2 separate regions of the Homo sapiens genome follow, and region 2 is linked to region 1. Evidence: fine-mapped QTL for protein levels in blood plasma. Region 1 holds a variant in brackets. A gene starts in the other region. All regions are shown on one strand. Distances are between the middles of the regions. Region 1 has its middle 10 kb from the start of SNORA11. Region 2 holds the start of EDA2R (ectodysplasin A2 receptor).

The links. A credible set is the group of variants that fine-mapping cannot tell apart. PIP is the chance, under the fine-mapping model, that this variant and not a neighbour inherited with it causes the effect. The UK Biobank Pharma Proteomics Project read protein levels with antibody pairs (Olink). The fine-mapping took linkage between variants from a reference panel, not from the people measured, so its PIPs are less certain.
Region 2: EDA2R starts here. The variant in region 1 is the best candidate, but not a certain one, in a credible set for the plasma level of the EDA2R protein (UK Biobank, PIP 0.72).

Annotation. Positions count from the first base shown.
Region 1 is chrX:54,819,420-54,829,542 of GRCh38, reverse strand. No RefSeq gene overlaps it. Among named protein-coding and RNA genes, the nearest start is that of SNORA11, 10 kb to the right of the region's middle. The variant C/T (reference allele first, on the strand shown) is at 4,511.
Region 2 is chrX:66,638,600-66,648,722 of GRCh38, reverse strand. It overlaps EDA2R (ectodysplasin A2 receptor), which reads left to right and starts at 9,645. Exons shown (of 7, transcript NM_021783.5): 1 at 9,645-9,728. RefSeq lists an enhancer at 9,825-10,123.

The sequences.
Region 1 (10,123 bases):
TAGCGGTCTATCAATTTTGTTCATCCTTTCAAAAAACCAGCTCCTGGATTCATTAATTTTTTGAAGGGTTTTTTGTGTCTCTATTTCCTTCAGTTCTGCTCTGATTTTAGTTATTTCTTGCCTTCTGCTAGCTTTGGAATGTGTTTGCTCTTGCTTTTCTAGTTCTTTTAATTGTGATGTTAGGGTGTCAATTTTGGATCTTTCCTGCTTTCTCTTTAAAGTTCATATGGAACCAAAAAAGAGCCTGCATTGCCAATTCAATCCTAAGCCAAAAGAACAAAGCTGGAGGCATCACACTACCTGACTTCAAACTATACTACAAGGCTACAGTAACCAAAACAGCATGGTACTGGTACCAAAACAGAGATATAGATCAACGGAACAGAACAGAGCCCTCAGAAATAATGCCGCATATCTACAACTATCTGATCTTTGACAAACCTGAGAAAAACAAGCAATGGGGAAATGATTCCCTATTTAATAAATGGTGCTGGGAAAACTGGCTAGCCATATGTAGAAAGCTGAAACTGGATCCCTTCCTTACACCTTATACAAAAATCAATTCAAGATGGATTAAAGACTTAAACGTTAGACCTAAAACCATAAAAACCCCAGAAGAAAACCTAGGCATTACCATTCAGGACATAGGCATGGGCAAGGACTTCATGTCTAAAACACCAAAAGCAATGGCAACAAAAGACAAAATTGACAAATGGGATCTAATTAAACTAAAGAGCTTCTGCACAGCAAAAGAAACTACCATCAGACTGAACAGGCAACCTACAAAATAGGAGAAAATTTTTGCAACCTACTCATCTGACAAAGGGCTAATATCCAGAATCTGCAATGAACTCAAACAAATTTACAAGAAAAAAACAAACAACCCCATCAAAAAGTGGGCGAAGGACATGAACAGTCACTTCTCAAAAGAAGACATTTATGCAGCCAAAAAACACATGAAAAAATGCTCATCATCACTGGCCTTCAGAGAAATGCAAATCAAAGCCACAATGAGATACCATCTCACACCAGTTAGAATGGCAATCATTAAAAAGTCAGGAAACAACAGGTGCTGGAGAGGATGTGGAGAAATAGGAACACTTTTACACTGTTGGTGGGACTGGAAACTAGTTCAACCATCGTGGAAGTCAGTGTGGCGATTCCTCAGGGATCTAGAACTAGAAATACCATTTGACCCAGCCATCCCATTACTGGGTATATACCCAAAGGACTATAAATCATGCTGCTATAAAGACACATGCACACGTATGTTTATTGCGGCATTATTCACAATAGCAAAGACTTGGAACCAACCCGAATGTCCAACAATGATAGACTGGATTAAGAAAATGTGGCACATATACACCATGGAATACTATGCAGCCATAAAAAATGATGAGTTCATGTCCTTTGTAGGGACATGGATGAAATTGGAAATCATCATTCTCAGTAAACTATTGCAAGAACAAAAAACCAAACACCGCATATTCTCACTCATAGGTGGGAATTGAACAATGAGAACACATGGACACAGGAAGGGGAACATCACACTCTGGGGACTGTTGTGGGGTGGGGGGAGGGGAGAGGGATAGCATTGGGAGGTATGCCTAATGCTAGATGATGAGTTAGTGGGTGCAGCACACCAGCATGGCACATGTATACATATGTAACTAACCTGCACAATGTGCACATGTACCCTAAAACTTAAAGTATAATAAAAAATAAAATAAAATTTAAAAAAAAAAAGTCGTTTTCCCTGCAATCTGCTACAGTGAACTCTCCTTATTCTCCTACCACTTCTGTCTGCCCACTCCCTTCGCAGTGTTTCCCAGTATTTCTCAGGTCAAAGAAAATAATTATGCTGGTGCAGCTCAATGGAGTGAACTGCTGGGGACTGGGGCTCTGGGCAGGCTGTGCGCAGTTGATGGGGTGGCTGAAGGGATCCATAGCTGCTGGATTGGGCCACTCCACCTTAGCTGCTGCCTTGAAGGATCTTCCCTTCTGGCTCCACACATGCTCCCTAGGTGACCTCCCTCTGTCACTTGGTTTCCACCACAGAAGCCCTACCAGTCACTCTGAATCTCTTCTCCCATCTAGGGCTCCCACAATTGCCCCCTCACCAGTGGGTGCAGACTCACAGTTGGACATCTGCCCCGGAATGTTTCAAGAAGCCTCCAATGCATCCTGCCCAAACAATGAATTCGTTGTCCTGCCCCTACTTGGCCCTTTATGCCTTCGCAGTCAGGGGCACCATCATCCACATGGTCACTCTGGAGACAAATCTGAGTGTTGCCTTCAATCTTCAGGTGGCCCCCATTCCCTGCAGCCAATCAACTTCCAATTCTTATTGCTTTTCTCTGCTGGATGCTTCTCCAGGCCACCCTCCTCTTCATCCCTAACTGACCAAGCCCAAGCTTAGGCCTCATTTTTCTCAGTTTCCCTCTTCTACTGCGGCCTCTCCCATCCATGCTGCTCAGAGGCAGCCGCTGAGACCCTGTAAACATTACCTCACATGTCATTTTATCTCATGGCTCCCTGTTCAACTACAGGACAAATACCATATTCCTTGTGTTGCCCTGCAGGACTCTCCAGCCTTCTATGTGGCTCTTTGGGTTTTTCATCTCAAATCTCTGCTCCAGAACGCCAAGCTGTTTGCAATTCCCTACACATACTTGGTAAGTTTTTGCCTGTTTCTTTTCTCAGGCAGCCACTACATTGCTGGAATGCCTTTCCCTCCCACAGGCCCTCGCCTATGGCCCATTTTTATTAATTCCTTAACAGACAGGTCAGCCTTGGTCTCCCCCTGGGAACCTTCTGGAACTGCCTTTCCTCTTCATTATGGCTTCCATCCTACCTTGTGTGTCATGGAAAGGGCAATTCTACCCTAGTGCCAATATTGGGTTTCTGTGTCTCGCCCATAGACAATAGGTAGGCGGTGTGTGTGATACCCTTTGGGGTTCCCAACGTCAGCCAACACCAGGTATGACACAGATGAGGTGCTCAGTGAGCCCCAGCGGGGTGGATGATCTGATGATGTGCTGGGCTTTCAAAGAGGAGCACACTCAAATAGGAAGTGGGAGATGACCTGAGTGTTCCTGGCAGGGTGTCAGAGGGGGTCAGGGCTCACGGTGCTTGGGAGTTCCTGGTTGTACTAGTCAATGCTTAATCCCATGCCTCCATCCATCCGTATTTCAACTGCAGGCAGCTGTGGTGATGGTAAAGAATGAACCAGCAGAGGAATACCTCCATGAACTAAACACACCCACGAGACATAACACCAGGTTAAAGCCCCTGCTGCCACCTGCTGGCAAGGTACCCTTGGCTCCTATCCTGGCAGGAGAATAACTTTTACTCCCCCTACACAACAGACTGAGCCACACCTCTGTGCCTCTGCAATGCTGTTCCTTCTCACTGCATGCCTTTCCCTTCACCTTCTCGACCGACTTGCAGGTATATCCAATTCATTTTTCCCATGCTTACTTAAATTCCAACTCCTTTAGGATGACGGCCCTGAAACCCTCCTCCACTGGCACCACGACAGAACCCATGACACACTTAAACACAACACCTAGAACACTTGATGACTGTCAAGGCTCTGTGTATCTGGGTGCTTCAGGATGGGGTGATGGCAGAGGGAGATGAGTGGCTGTGTCTGACTCACTTCTGAGTTGTCAGAGTCAATGAGTACAAGACTGGCCTAGTCCACTTATTCATTCAACATGTGAATGAATGAATGAATGATGCATGAGAAGAGGTTTAACCATGGGACACTTTTAGTCCAGGGCAGACAAACGAATTGTTGGTGGACTGGAGTCATCAAGGAGGAGGTGTTTCGGCAGTGTTTCAGGAACACAAGGATGCTGAGCAGTGGAGCAAGGAGGAAGAAGTCATTCTCAGGGCAGTGGCCACCATGAGCAAATGCTCACACAGATGAGAGGCAGGCTCGGGTGTTTTGGAGAAAAGTGTGGTGTGGTGTGGTGTGGTTTGGGGCAGCTGGAGGGTGGTTTGTGTGCTGGGGTTGAGAGTTCTGTGGCGGGAGAGGCAGAGTGGAACCAGATGTCTCAGGCTGCCCCGCCATCCTTGTGCTCAAGCCAGGGCCCTGGGATCAGTGCTCTGTCCTTTCCCATCTGGGAGAGTGTGGGACCTCTGCTCTTTCTTCATGAATGTGGAAACTCAGAATTGAAGGGCTCCCTGTTTAGGCAGATGGCTCCACTGAAGCAATAAGGATTGTTAAAAGCCGAGAGAGAGCAAGGAAGCCCAAGAGAACACAGGAGAGTATAGGAGCTATAGAATGCATGAGAGCCCATGAACATGAGTGCCCAATTAGTGGCCAAGGGTTTACTTTGCAGAAGGACTGTTTTCGAGCAGGCTATGACTTGATTCAGTTAGGGATGGGTCCTTTGGGCACTTGATTCACTGGAGACAGTTCCAGGTCTCCAACCCTTTGGGGGATTCGATGTGCCTCCCAAGGTTGAAGCCATGTGTCTTTTCACATCAGCCTATCCTTGTT[C/T]GCTAGCTCTCACTTATCCCTAGGGAAACTGGAGTGACCAGCTGGAGAGACCCGAGCAGTGTGCTCAGGCCTGTCTGACTCCAGAGCCCATCCTCTCTCCTCTTCCCCAGGCCCCCTCACCTGCACGGCTCTAATGATGTCCTCCATGACCACATCGTACTGAACCGGGAAGTCAGCCATGATGCCTGAGCCAACTGGTCTTGCAATGTCGGGCAGTAGGTGGTGTGGTGTGGGGCTGCTGAGGGGTGGTTTGTGTGCTGGGGTTGAGAGTCCTATAGCAGGAGATGCACGATGGGACCAGATGTCTCAGGCTGCCCTCTCGATCCTGGTGGATGGGGGCAAATCAGCCTCACCTGTATGAGTGGGTACGATTGGGATGGGGTGGTACAGAGGGCTCACAAGACAGAAGAACCACAGAAAGGGCAGCACAAGGGGTGCTATCTGGGGAGGGTGAGAAGTCTAACCCCTCCCCAAACCTCCGGTGACTCCTGCCTACAACACCCTTCCACCTGCCCCACGCTCCTCTCCCAGTCCCACAGCCAGCTCCTCTCTGCATCCTCCATTGAGCCCAGCCGGACAGACCCAGCTTGGCCCTCAGCTCCCAGGCCCTAGCAGTGTGACGCTCACTGGCAACCTCACCCTACCTCATTGCCCATGCAACCTGGGGCCCAGTCTTTGGAGGCATGGCAAGTCTGGAGGTACACCAGCAGCCTGCGTCTCCTCCCAGAGAGGCAGTGCAGTCAGTGTGTGTCCAGGAGACAGACAGACACACAGACAAGGTCTAGGTCTCCTCCCATCCCCCCACTGCTGTGGAAACAGCAGCCTAGCAAGGTTATCCTCTGGATCGGATTTCATATTTCTTCTTCCCTCTCTGCCTTCTGACTCTGGGCATCATGTGTGTGAACAAGCCTTTTAGAGTCTCATGAAATCACAGATGACTCTCTAGTCCCGGATGTTTGCTGAGCTGGCCACAAGATCAACTCCTCTGGAATCCAAGACAAATGTCCATTTAGAAATGTCACTGTGCCTCCTTTTTTTCCAGAAAATGGAAACTTGGGAATTCTGCTCCCCCTTCTTCCTGCCACAGCTGTCAGGAAGCTCAGGGACACACTGAGCCCCATACTCTCTGAGGCGCCTGCTCACATACATTCCCTTGGCTTCCTTCCTCTCAGAGCTCTTTGTTCTGTTTTCTCCCCCACAGGATTGGTCCTACCCTCTGTTTTAACCTTTAAGGAGAATGGGGGAGGGACCTGCCATTTTTAGCTTAGGGCTGAAGAGTGCAGGCTGCAGGGACTCAGATGGCCTGTGGGCCCAGGTCCCCGCTGCTGCTGTGTGTCCCTGGACAAGAGACTCATTCTCTCTAAGCCTCTGGCTCCTCATCTACAGCACAGGCATGACCACAGCTCCTACTTCATAGGCAGTGCTTGTGGGAAATAAATGAGGCCATTCATGTAAAGCGTTTGGAGCCATACCTGCATCTCAGTGAGTGCCACCTAATGCTAATGAGTAGAATGATCGTGCAATCTTCTCTGCACCATGTAGTTGGGAGGGAGGAATTCTCTCAAAGTCTCACAGTGGTCCTGAGCTGTAGATGGCATCTCGTCCATTTTACAGATGGGAAAAGTGAAGTCGAGCAATGGAGTGACTGGCTTTGATCGTCCCACATTAGGGGAGTGTCAGCACTGGGATTTGGATCCAGTCTGTGTGTCTGTCTGTGTCTGTTACATCCACTGTCCACCCCAGTGCCTCTCTGGGTCAACAGAGTCGAATGAGTTGGGACCTCCAATGCTAAACAGCTTTGGAGGGGCTGCCACATGAGCCAGGGATTTCTCTGCACCTGTCCTCTCATCTCTCAGATGAGGTGAGCAGGCCAGCTCCGTGATTCTCCAACCTGGCTGGATGTCAATGTCCCCTGAGACTGGTTGATGACACAGCTTCCTGGGCCCCACCCCCATGCTACTGAACCAGACCCTGAAGGCTGGGCTCCAGGAATCTGCATTTCTAGGAGCCCATGTTGTGATTCTGAGGTAGCCAGTCTGGCCTTCCAAAACCTCTAGGTGAGATTTGAAGCAAGTCTGTGAGGCAGGATGCTCCTCTTCCCTCCAGGGTGTGAGACGGTGTCCTCCAAAGAGCCTGCACTTGCTGCACTCACTGACCTGCCATTCTCAGTGGGGATCCAGGGAAAAGCACGATTTGGCCAGTGTGGATTCTACAACCTCAGCAAAATAAACAAGGAAAGTTTCACACAAAAATTCCTCATTCACACTTGTTTTCTCATTCATTCATGCATTTACTTTCACCCACTCTTTCCTTCGCTCACATTTATTCATTCCTTTTTACACTCACATTCACTCTCTGTGTCAGGCAGAATGCTGTCCCAAAACACATGGCAAACTCCGTGGGCAAACTGATGGTAAACTCATGAGGACATAATTTACAGAGGTAGGTGGCATTAGAGGACCCACAAGGGATGGGCAGAGATGGGGGAACTGAATCTGCCAAAAGCCATTACCACCTCAAGCCCTGAAGGGTCAAGGTGCAATGGCAGTTAAAAGAAAGTGACAAGAGTCACAGCCACGGAAGAAGAGCGGCCCATGGGAACTGATGGCCCGAGTTAGGGGAGCCTCGTGACAGCTAAAGCACAACCCAGCAGATAGGGAGGCATAGGGATAAATACCCTAAAGCTCTCGTTGTGACCTCCGCGCATCGGGTGCCATTGTCTCTCACTTGCAGGACAAGGAGCCCAGATGATACAATCAGCAACGGTCAGTCTCCTGAAGCACAGAGCGGGACAGGCATAGATGGGGAGTGGATTTAGAAGGGCAAGTGGGGAGTAATGAAGAGAGCCCCCACCATTAGCCCCTGAGCAGCCCTTGCTCCTGCTTGGGTCTGGCCCAGCCACCTGTCCCACCTCAAGATCTTCATCGTGGGCACACGCTACATGGTAACTGAGTGCAAGAGCACATCCAGCCGCACAGAATACTACCTCATGAATATCCCATCACGCCCCACTCTATCTACCTATGCCAGCGTGGTGGGAGCAAACTCAACCTCAGAGGCCACATTGGAGGCGACTCTTGACTCTCAGCTTGCGGCCAGCAGGTAGGGAGGGCCACACACACAGATGGGTTGGCTGGGCTGTCCCAGGTGGGCTAGGGGTGTAGGGGTAGCCACTGCCTGGGTCCTGAGGTGGGAGACAGATTCTGTCACTCTTGCTCTTCCACCCGTCAGCCACTCAATCTTGCCCCAGCCACCAAATGACTCCCAATGCCACCTGCTCTGCAGGTCTAAGAGCTTGGCCCCGGCACCCAAGCCCTACCCAAAGCCAGCTGCTTCATGACAGTGACCCCCTTGACTCTGCCTGACTGGTCCCCTCATCTTTCTCATGACTCCATGCCTTTGCTGGTGCACCTCCCCCACCTAGACGGCCCTCCTCTGTCCCCTCTGTCAGCAGGTGACCATCACTGGTCACACAGACCGCTGCCCTGAGACACCCACCCTTGAACCACTCTTCTCCCCTCCTCACCCCAACATAGGTGTCACACTGGCAGCCCTGTCCCCACCCATGACTGTGTCCTTCTTGCCCTCCCCACTCCCTTCCAAGGCCCAACACTGGCTCCATGGTGTGGTCCAGGAAGCCCTCTTCATCTTCTCCTCCCTCCCAGGCAGGTTGCTGTGCCCTGGGCTTCAGTTCTCCCAGTTCTGGCCCATGTGTGGCTTTCCTGGCCCGAGTCTCTTCTCCCCAGCCCAGGACAGTGATCTGCACATTCTGGGTGCTGGCTGAATAAAGGGATCCATTTCCACAGCATTTACCCCTGCACCTGGGCTTCTTAGCACAGGTATTGTTCCTTCTGGCAGGACTGGTTGGGGGTGGGACAAGTGGGAAAATTAGTGCAGGAAGGACAGTTGTTGTCACAATTGTCATTTATTGGACACCTATGCACAATCATGGTGCCATCTGCTTCCGCATATGTGGCTCATTTCATCTTCACCACGAGTCTATGGGATGGGCATTCCTGCCACTGGTTTATGGATGAGGAAGCAGAGTGGCCCCAGGGCAGGCAGCTAGGATGAGACAGAGCCAGGACTGAAAGCTGGCCTACCCGCCTGCCCTCAGCTCCCCCATTGGAGAGGTGGGGGTGCCCCAGGCAAGTCGCTGCCCTGATGGATGGCTGCGTCCTCGTGGCTCCCTTTCTGTTATCTCTAGACTGACAGCCTCCCCTCAAGGTAGACTCTGACCTGTTACTCCCCCATGGCCCACTCCTCAGAGCAGAGTCAGAGGCCGCAGGAAGTGTGACCCTGGCCCATGGCAGCCCCTGCAGCCAGGGCCATCTTGGCTGGAGCCAGCCTGGCCTTGCCAACACAGCTTGGAGCCCAGCTAGACACGTGGCCGTCTCCACAGGGCATGCCTCCCTGCACACAACCCTGTGTGTGCATGCACACAACCGGCACCACCTTCATGTTCATCACAGAGCACCAGGCCCAGTTTACAAAGCACCTCCCCGTCGAGGTAACTCTCACTTGCGCAGCACCCCCCATGTACCAGGCCACGGTCCGGGTGCTCCCCACCCACTATCTAAAGTGCGGCCCCCAGAGAGCAGGCCGGGTGAGCCAATGCTCTTTGGATATGAGGCCAGAGAGGGGCAGGGACGTGTCCGAGGGCACAAGGGACCATGTAAGGGAGCTGGGGGAGTTTACCCTACGGCTCCTTCCTCCCAGTCAAGGGCTCCTTCCACGAGAGCACGCTGACTGCTGACTCATGTCCATAATGAAATGTATGTATGAAACGCCTATAGCCGCATATAGAAATGTGTGCCTGGACCTATGCACCTGTGCAGATGTTCCTAACACATGCCATCAGCGGTTAACAACACGCCTATACACAGAGGAGGAAATCACTAGCTCCTCTGGGCTCCCACAGCCCTTTATGGTTCCCCTCGGTGCTGCCAGTGTTTCCCTCACCGGATTGGCCGTCTTGAGAACAGGAACACCCCAGCACCCAGCACAGGGTGCTCACTACATGGAACCCTGCAGTCACTATACATGGCAGTTGAAGGAACAAATAAATGTCTGACAGATTGGGATGCTGTGTGGAGCCTGTGAGAAGCCCCATCTGGAGAATCATAGCGTGAGCTTCTAGCATTTTGGAGCAAAAGCCATGCTCTCTTCATCAAATAACCACTCACCTTTTGAGAAGTGGCACCTGGCACCTGACGATTAATTCAACAAGGTTGAACTACTGGCTCCTGGTAGAGTATGAGCACTTAACCACGGGACCCCAAGTGACCATGCACCTGAGCTGCTCACCCTAGGCCTGTGCCATCTTATCCACCAAACCATAAAGTCAGGCAGGTAATGACAATGCTTCATCACCAAAGGGCAGTGGTCACAGGAGATCAGACCGGAGCAGGTCCTGCAGGCACAAGTGAGTTACGGGAGGCTCACCCTCCCCATAACACCTTCTCCTGCCGCATTGCTTGCCCTCCCTCAGCTCACACCGAGGGCCTTGTACCGAGTTCCCAACAACCAGCTTCCCAAAGAAGGAAAAAAGCCCAGGAGCATGGTTTGCAAATGACACACATGGTAAGCAGGAACTAGCTGGAGGCTGAGCTG
Region 2 (10,123 bases), 12 Mb before region 1:
ACACATAGGCATAAAATAAAGGGATGGAGGAAGATCTACCAAGCAAATGGAAAACAAAAAAAAGGCAGGGGTTGTATTCCTAGTCTCTGATAAAACAGACTTTAAACCAACAAAGATCAGAAGAGACAAAGAAGGCCATTACACAATGGTAAAGGGATAAATTCAACAAGAAGAGCTAACTATCTTAAATATATATGCATCCAATACAGGAGCACCCAGATTCATAAAGCAAGCCCTTAGAGACCTACAAAGAGACTTAGACTCCTACACAATAATAATGGGAGACTTTAACACCCAAATTTAAACAAAAGACAGACCAACGAGACAGAAAGTTAACAAGGATATCCAGGAATTGAACTCAGCTCTGCACCAAGTGGACCTCATAGACATCTACAGAATTCTGCAACCCAAATCAACAGAATATACATTCTTCTCAGCACCACACCGCACTTATTCCAAAATTGACGGCATAGTTGGAAGTAAAGCACTCCTCAGCAAATGTAAAAGAACAGAAATTATAACCAACTGTCTCTCAGACCACAGTGCAATCAAACTAGAACTCAGGATTAAGAAACACACTCAAAGGCGCTCAACTACATGGAAACTGAACAACCTGCTCCTGAATGACTACTGGGTACATAACGAAATGAAGGCAGAAATAAAGATGTTCTTTGAAACCAACGAGAACAAAGACACAACGTACCAGAATCTCTGGGACACATTTAAAGCAGTTTGTAGAGGGAAATTTATACCACTAAATGCCCACAAGAGAAAGCAGAAAAGATCTAAAATTGACACCCTAACATCACAATTAAAAGAACTAGAGAAGCAAGAGGAAACACATTCAAAAGCTAGCAGAAGGCAAGAAATAACTAAGATCAGAGCAGAACTGAAGGAGATAGAGACACAAAAAAAGCTTCAAAGAAACCAATGAATCCAGGAGCTGGTTTTTTGAAAAGATCAACAAAATTAATAGACTGCTAGCAGGACTAAAAAAGAAGAAACGAGAAGAATCAAACAGATGTAATAAAAAGTGATAAAAGGGAGATCACCACCGATCCCACAGAAATACAAACTACCATCAGAGCATACTATAAATACCTGTACGCAAATAAACTATAAAATCTAGAAGAAATGCATAAATTCCTCAACACATACACCCTCCCAACACTAAACAAGGAAGAAGTTGAATCTCTGAATAGACCAATAACAGGTTCTTAATTGAGGCAATAATTGATAGCTTACCAACCAAAAAAAGTCCAGGACCAGATGGATTTACAGCCGAATTCTACCAGAGGTACAAAGAGGAGCTGGTACCATTCCTTCTGAAACTATTCCAATGAATAGAAAAAGAGGGAATCCTCCCTAACTCACTTTATGAGGCCAGCATCATCCTGATACCAAAGCCTGTCAGAGACAAAACCAAAAAAGAGAATTTTAGACCAATTTCCTTGATGAACATTGATGCAAAAATCCTCAATAAAATACTGGCAAACCAAATCCAACAACACATCAAAAAGCTTATCCACCATGGTCAAGTGGGCTTCATCCCTGGGATGCAAGGCTGGTTCAACATATGCAAATCAATAAACATAATCCAGCATATAAATAGAACCAACGACAAAAGCCACATGATTATCTCAATAGATGCAGAAAAGGCCTTTGACAAAATTCAACACCCCTTCATGCTAAAAACTCTCAATAAATTAGGTATTGATGGGATGTATCTCAAAATAATAAGAGCTATTTATGACAAACCCACAGCCAATATCATACTGAATAGGCAAAAACTGGAAGCATTCCCTTTGAAAATCAGCACAAGACAGGGATACCCTCTCTCACCACTCCTATTCAACATAGTGTTGGAAGTTCTGGCCAGGGCAATTAGGCAGGAGAAGGAAATAAAGGGTATTCAATTAGGAAAAGAGGAAGTCAAATTGTCCCTGTTTGCAGATGACATGATTGTATATCTAGAAAACCCCATTGTCTCAGCCCAAAATCTCCTTAAGCTGATAAGCAACTTCAGCAAAGTCTCAGGATACAAAATCAATGTGCAAAAATCACAAGCATTCTTATACACCAATAACAGACAAACAGAGAGCCAAATCATGAGTGAACTCCCATTCACAATTGCTTCAAAGAGAATAAAATACCTAGGAATCCAACTTACAAGGGATGTGAAGGACCTCTTCAAGGAGAACTACAAACCACTGCTCAACGAAATAAAAGAGGATACAAACACATGGAAGAACATTCCATGCTCATGGATAGAAAGAATCAATATCATGAAAATGGCCATACTGCCCAAGGTAATTCATAGATTCAATGCCATCCCCATCAAGCTACCAATGACTTTCTTCACAGAATTGGAAAAAACTACTTTAAAGTTCATATGGAACCAAAAAAGAGCCCACATTGCCAAGTCAATCCTAAGCCAAAGAAGAAAGCTGCAGGCATCATGCTACCTGACTTCAAACTGTACTACAAGGCTACAGTAACCAAAACAGCATGGTACTGGTACCAAAACAGAGATATAGACCAATGGAATAGAACAGAGCCCTCAGAAATAATACGACACATCTATAATTATCTGATCTTTGACAAACCTGATAAAAACAAGAAATGGGGAAAGGATTCCCTGTTTAATAAATGGTGCTGGGAAAACTGGCTAGCCATATGTGGAAAGCTGAAACTGGACCTCTTCCTTACACCTTATACAAAAATTAATTCAAGACGGATTAAAGACTTAAATGTTAAACCTAAAACCATAAAAACCCTAGAAGAAAACCTAGGCAATACCATTCAGGACATAGGCATGGACAAGGACTTCATGTCTAAAACACCAAAAGCAATGGCAACAAAAGCCAAATTTGACAAATGGGATATAATTAAACTAAAGAGCTTCTGCACAGCAAAAGCAACTTCCATCAGAGTGAACAGGCAACCTACAGAATGGGAGAAAATTTTTGCAATCTACTCATCTGACAAAGGCCTAATATCCAGAATCTACAATGAACTCAAACAAATTTACAAGAAAAATCAGACAACCCCATCAACAATGGGCGAAGGATATGAATAGACATTTCTGAAAAGAAGACATTTATGCAGCCAACAGAGGCATGAAAAAATGCTCATCATCACTGGCCATCAGAGAAATGCAAATCAAAACCACAATGAGATACCATCTCACACCAGTTAGAAGGGCGATCACTAAAAAGTTAGGAAACAACAGGTGCTGGAGAGGATGTGGAGAAATGGGGACACTTTTACACTGTTGGTGGGACTGTAAAGTAGTTCAACCATTGTGAAAGTCAGTGTGGCTATTCCTCCGGGATCTAGTACCAGAAATACCATTTGACCCAGCCATCCCATTACTGCATGTATACCCAAAGGTGCATAAATCATGCTGCTATAAAGACACATGCACACGTATGTTTATTGCAGCACTATTCACAGTAGCAAAGGCTTGGAACCAACCCAAATGTCCAACAATGATAGACTGGATTAAGAAAATGTGGCACATATACACCATGGAATACTATGCAGCCATAAAAAATGATGAGTTCATGTCCTTTGTAGGGACATGGATGAAGCTGGAAACCATCATTCTTAGCAAACTATCGCAAGGACAAAAAACCAAACACCACGTGTTCTCACTCATAGGTGGGAATTGAACAATGAGAACACTTGGACACGGGAAGGGGAACATCACACCCGGGGCCTGTTGTGGGGTGGGGGAAGGAGGGAGGGATAGCATTAGGAGATACACCTAATGTAAATGATGAGTTAATGGGTGCAGCACACCAACATGGCACATGTATACATATGTAACAAACCTGCATGTTGTGCACATGTACCCTGAAACTTAAAGTATAATAAAAAAAAGAAAAAAAAAGATGAGAGAAAATGTTTCCTAAAATTTGGCAGTTAAGTGGTCCCCTGTAGCTTTAGGGAGAACAAATGGGGCTAGAAGCCAGATTATAGTAGGTTGGGGAGCTAATGGAAATTAAAGTCATGGAAACAGTTATTAGAGAAAACTCTATCCAGAAATTTGGCTAAGAAAAAAAATGAGACGAGGCTGTTGTTTGAGAAAGAGGAAATGTGGTAGAAGGGTTGATTTTATTTTGTAGTGGGAGGAATTCAAATATGTTTACGAGTTAAAGGGGTAGGCACAGAAGACAGGTAAATAATGATGCCATAGAGAGTGGGGGTAATTGATGGAGAAAGATTCATAAATATCAGGGGAGGCATTCTCTCCTCTTCTTCAAGAGGAAAGGCCAAGATGAATGAAGACAGAGAGAACCTTATAGGAATTAGGGAAGAAGTTATAGGCACTAAATGCCTAATAGAATCTGTTTTATTGATGAAGAAGAAAAGAGTCAATGTTTCTGGGCTAAGAATTCAGTGCTAAAGTAGGAACTTAACCTTTACTTCTAAAGGTAGAGGTTTAGAATAGCTCTTCAGAGAGGATGGAAGGAGCCTCTGATTGGAAGGGAAAGCAAGGATTGTACATTTGAGTGTGACAGTGAATAATTAAGGCATCAGCTATTCTTGAGAATCCTGGGTCAATTGCCACTTATTGGTTGTGGCACTGATAGATGGCATAGATAAGTCACCTATCGTTTCTGTGCCTCAATTTTGTCATCTATAAAATAGGAGTGATGTCATGGTTTTTGCCTCATAGGATTATTGTGATGATTAAATGAGCTATTGCATACAGAACATTTGGCATAGGGCCTGACATATAGAGTTCATCAAGCATTGATCAAGTGTTGGCTATTATTATTATTTTGGGTGTGGGTTTCAATTCCTTTTTAGCCATCTTATTTTTATTGTGGCACACCTGAGGCCTGGGAGCTCATTATAGAAGGATACATTCAAATGTGAACATTTTTCTCCTTGGGCTTATTCAACAGATATATTGATATATATAATATGTAAAAATGTATTGAGCGCTTAAAATACTCTAGGTACAGTTTTGCATGTGGAAATTTGTGAAATGGTATATAAGGTCCCTGCCACATAGGTTCACACTCCAGTGAGAGAAGTTAGAATCAGGCCAGAGGGACAATGGAGGGTGGGAGGAACTCTGTAAAATCCCTGCACTTGAGGGGCAAGTGGAGAATGAGAATCCATAAAATGCTGTAGAGAAATAAGTGAAACTAGAAGACATTAGTTCCATGAAAGTCAAGGGAAGAGAGTCAGAAAGAAAAGAATCCAGACAATGTTGGATGTTTTAGATAATTCAAATAAGAAAACAGAAGAATCCATGGGTTTGATAGTATGAAAATCATGGGTGACCTTGAGAAGAGCAAAATGTAGTGAGTTTGGAAATGAAGAGGTGGAGGTGAGGATATGAAAAGAATTAATCTTAGTTCAGAATGGAAAGACAATTTAGGAGAAAGAGCCAGAGGAAGAAAGACCATGAAGATACAAATAAAGCAAAATGGAATAGACAGGAGTAAACACAGATGGAGACAGGAGGGACAGGAGGAAACTCTGAGGTAAGAAACAGGATGAACTTGAATGTGGAGATGTCAGAAGTTGTTTAGACTTCAAGTTTCGTGCCCTTTTACATTCTCGGTGAAACTGGAGGTGAAGTCATCTGCTAGGGGTTTGGGAGCTGTGTTGAGCACTTGACTTAAGAAGAGTGAGTTTTAAAAGCCATCTTGGGCAAGTGGAATAGAAGATTATTTAAAATGAGAGATAACACTATTGGACTGTGCTAGAATCTAGCTGAAGTTTGAAAATTCCCATGGCTAGAAGTAACTCTTATACCCCAGCTTTCTAATTCAGAAGACCTAAGCCTGTATACACCACTGCAGCAAACATTTATGGCCAAGTTTATCTACACACATCTCACAGGCTAAAGAGAACAAGAAGCTGATATTGTGTTCAGGGACATCCTTAGCAATGTTTGAGTTTACAGGGGTTGCCCCACAGGCCTCAGCATCCCCTTAGTCTTTCAGCTTCTTTTCCTGCCCCCTGGTCCCAGTCTTGAGAGGAGCTATAAGGGCCCCATTCTGCCTGGATAACCATGAAGCTCCTTCATGAAAGGTGGTCCTGCCATTGTTGGACACTAGAATTAGAGGCTACCCAGGATTCTCTGAGACACAGCCAAGGCCAGTATTCCCCTGAGTGACCCTAAGTAACCTCTGAGAGAGAGCTGAGGGGTGGCATCAGAGAGCCCTGAATCTCACTGAGCCCCAGAATCTGTCTGGTCCCAGAGATAAGCAGAGTGGAGGCTGGTCCTGCCTATCCTGCTGTCAGGTTAGGCTGGTTCCAGCAGTAGAATGTAGGTAGAGAAACTCTGTACTGATAGTTCTCAGTTTGGGTTCACAAAGTGACTCCTGTTTATCATAAAAGGAGGGGCTGTGGAAAGCCCCCAAGAAATTAGCTGATCCAAACTTAGTTCTGCTGCACAAGCACATGGAGCTAGAGTGGCTCCCCCACAGAGAGCAGAGTTGAGAGCCTTAACCCTACTCACCACCACACTGCACCGGGGGTCCTGGGGCTATGTTGAGAAAAAGCTCACCTACCCAGTGGATTTCAAAAGGCCTAGGCAATCCCATTAGCTTGTACTAGCTAGGGTATTCAAGAAAGTCCACTTTGATAAAGTGACATTTAAGCAGGGATATGGAGGAAGTGAGAAAAGGAGCCATGCTGATATCTGGGGGAAGAATTGGCTAGGCTGAAGGAGCAGCAAGTGCAAAGACCAGAGTCTTGAGCATGCTTTGAGTGTTGGAAAAAATATCAAGGCCGCCAGTTGGGGTTGGGTATGGTGGTCAAGGCGAGTGGTAAGAGGTGAGATCAGAGATAGAGGGGCAGGTTAGTGAGGATGGGATGGCGTGGGATAGATTGTAGACTATTATAGACCATAGTTAAGGATTTTGGGTTTTCTGCTGAATAAGAAGCCAACCAGTAGAATTGCTTGGACAGACTTAGACTGATGTACTTTTAAAAGGATCATTCTGGTTGCTCTGCTGAGAATTGACTGGAGTGGGGTAAGCATGAGAGCAAGGAGAGCTATTGGAGGATATGGCAATAATTCAGGTGAAAAGTAATCGTGGCTTGCACCAGAGTGGTTGCAGTGAAGGTGCTAAGAAGTTGGTGAAATTCAGAGTTTATCTCTGAGGCAGGAGGCAGAGCTGATAGGATGTGCTGATGGGTTGAATGTGAGGTGTGAGCAAAAGGAGAGGGGAGGATAATTCTAATGATTGTGGCTTCATAGATTATGAAGATAAAATGAATTAATTCATGAAAAAAATTTGAGCAGTGCCTGGCAAGTGCTTAGTGAGGGCCAGCTAACTGTTATAGTATTATTGGACAAGTTATGGTGGAGGACAGTGGTTTCATATTTGCTGCTTATAATCACTTTCCACAATAGCTTGTGGACTCTGACATATCCCTGGTACCTCTATCTCAAGTTTCCTCCTGTACTTCCAGGCAGAATCACAGAGTACAAGGAGCCTCTTCATCTACAAAATGAGGATGGTAACCTCAACCTCATAGAATGGTTGTAAGGTATAAAGGGACACATATGCATGATTTATAGGTGCTCAGTAAATGTTATTCTTGTCCACCTTCTAAACCTTTGCTACTAAAACTATGGTCTGTGGCCCAGCACCATCAATATCACCTGGAAGCAGTTAGAAAATCAGAGTCTTAGTCCCACACCACAGCTGCTAACTCAGAATCTGTGTTTTAACAAGATCCTTAGGTGATTTGTGTGCACATTAATATGAGAGAAGCACGGCTCTAGCGTTTCAAGGTCATCCAGTCCAACAGTCTCTTCAGGATACAGATGCAGAAAGGAAAACTAAGAGAGAGGAAGAGATTTACATGATGTTACACTTAGTTTTGTCAAGACATCTAAATTCCAAGCTAGGGTTCTTTACACTAAAGTTTCAAAACTGTCTGTAATTCAGCTTCTCTGGGTAGGAAAGGATGGAGAAAAAGAAGAGGTCCTGTTTTCTAGGAAAGGACAGAACAGAATTAGGAGGTACCCAGGGTAGCTATTTTCATTTGAATCTCACAGATGATTTCAGAGGTCCCTAAATTGCATTCATGTATTTATTTATATTTAATAAACACTTCTATACCACTACGTCCCAGAAATCATTCTAAGCTCCTTACGCATATGAACACTATTTTGTATATTAACTCATATAATACCTAAAACAATCCTATGAGTAAGGGATTGTTATTTTCCCCACTTTACAGAAGAGAATCCTGAGCCACAGAGTGGTTAAGTAACTTGCCTTAGGTCACAAAGCTAGTAAGGGGCAGACCTAGGATTCCAATTCTGGCAGTTTTCCCTTCTACTAGGCCTGAGCCCACAGTAGCCTATTCTGGTCTTAACTCTAGCTAGGGGACAGATATGAAGTTCATTTAGGACTTTTTCTACTTCAGCTTAGGGCCTATTCAGCCCTTTCCCACCAAAGGCTTTTCAGCTGCTTTACTGAGACTCCACCCTGAGCTGGCATATAGCCTCTGCCCAGTACAGGAGGGGTCCCTCAGAGACTGATAATGGCTCATTTCTTGGTCCTCTCCCCCATACCTTGGCTCAAGCTTTTCTTTTCCTCTACCCATTAGGCTATTTCCTCTTTGACCTCTTTTAAAAGCTCCTAATCTATTGAAAAGCATTTGCTTTCCTTGTCAGACTCTTTTTTACTCCTTCTTCCTACTGGCCCCCAAACCCTTCCAGTCTGCACCTCATAGTTTGGCCCTTAATTCTCTGTCTCTGTCCGGTCTACTTTATCTTCCCAGCTCTGCAAACTCTTCAAGGTCAGGGACTAGTAACGTTTCGGGATTTATCCACCGCTGCCTCTGAGATCATGGATTAATAAACTCCCAAAGTGTCATTGTTTGAAGTGCCCTTAGAGACTACGTAGCTCAACCCCCTCCTTGTACAGACACTCAGGGGCCCAGAGAAGATGGATGATCAAAGCTGAGTGCCGAATCCAATTTTCCTTTATTTTTAGTGGTCTTTTCCCTGCTTCATGTCTGCTCTCTTCCTCCTGTCACAATCCTATCTACCCTTCTGAATGGAGGAGTATTTTTTTGAGGCAGATGCAGAGCTGGAAAGCGGCTTCTCCATGTGTCTGAAAATTTTGGCTTTTCCAACAATAATTTTCCCTGTCAAACTCCAAGCCTGCTAAGTCATGAATAAACTTTGATGAGCTGAGCTGCATTCAGCTGTGAAAGAGACAACTTGATGCTTTCTCTGGACCCCACTCCCTGGCCCTCTACTCTCTGGCCCCCGCTTCAGTCCCAGGAGATTTGCAGCTCCTGCCATACCAGTGGCTGGGTCACTGTTCTTCAGCCTCACATTGTTCCTCTCAAAGGCAGTTTCTTTTCGTAGCCACGCCTAGGCACTCAAACAGTCCAATAGCTGCTCTAGGAACTTCACGGGGGCGGAAGAGGTAAGCTTACCGTGAAAGGAGGGTTTGGGCTGTTGTTGCTACACGTGGATGTGAAATGAGTCAAGCGGAACTTTGATTACAAGGAATTTCATATACTGTGAGTGTGTATGCAGGCTGGGGGCTGAGGGGCGGGGGCTGAGGGGCGGGGCTGATGGGCGGGTCTGAGGGGCGGGGGCTGAGGGGCGCGGGGTGAAGGGCGGGGGGTGACGGGAGGGGGCTGGGTGAGATGTGTGCTCTGCGCTGAGGTGGATTTGTACCGGAGTCCCATTTGGGAGCAAGAGCCATCTACTCGTCCGTTACCGGGTGAGTGTGGGAACACCCCCTGGTGTGGCAAGGCGGCTGGGACCTGCGGCATCTAGGTGCAGAAGTACAGAATCAGGTCAGGATGATCCTGCTAGGGTACCGCAAAATCAGAACAATTGGGAAGGCGCCCTGTGGCTGGCTGTCAGTCCATCCATTTGTGTCCGGAGAGCGCTTTCTGAGGTATCAGGGATCTGGGCTGACATCTCTAGGATCTTGGCGAGCCATTTCCTGTAGGCTCTTACTGGACCTGCATTGCCTCTGAGAACATGCCTGGACGTGTCCAACAACCTTGAGCATCTAGGGTTGGGAGATAAAGAAGAGAAGGAGGCTGGGTGTTAGTGAAGGCGGGGACAGTGGATCAGACTTGTGGAGCATCCTGAGGAAAGCAGAACTGC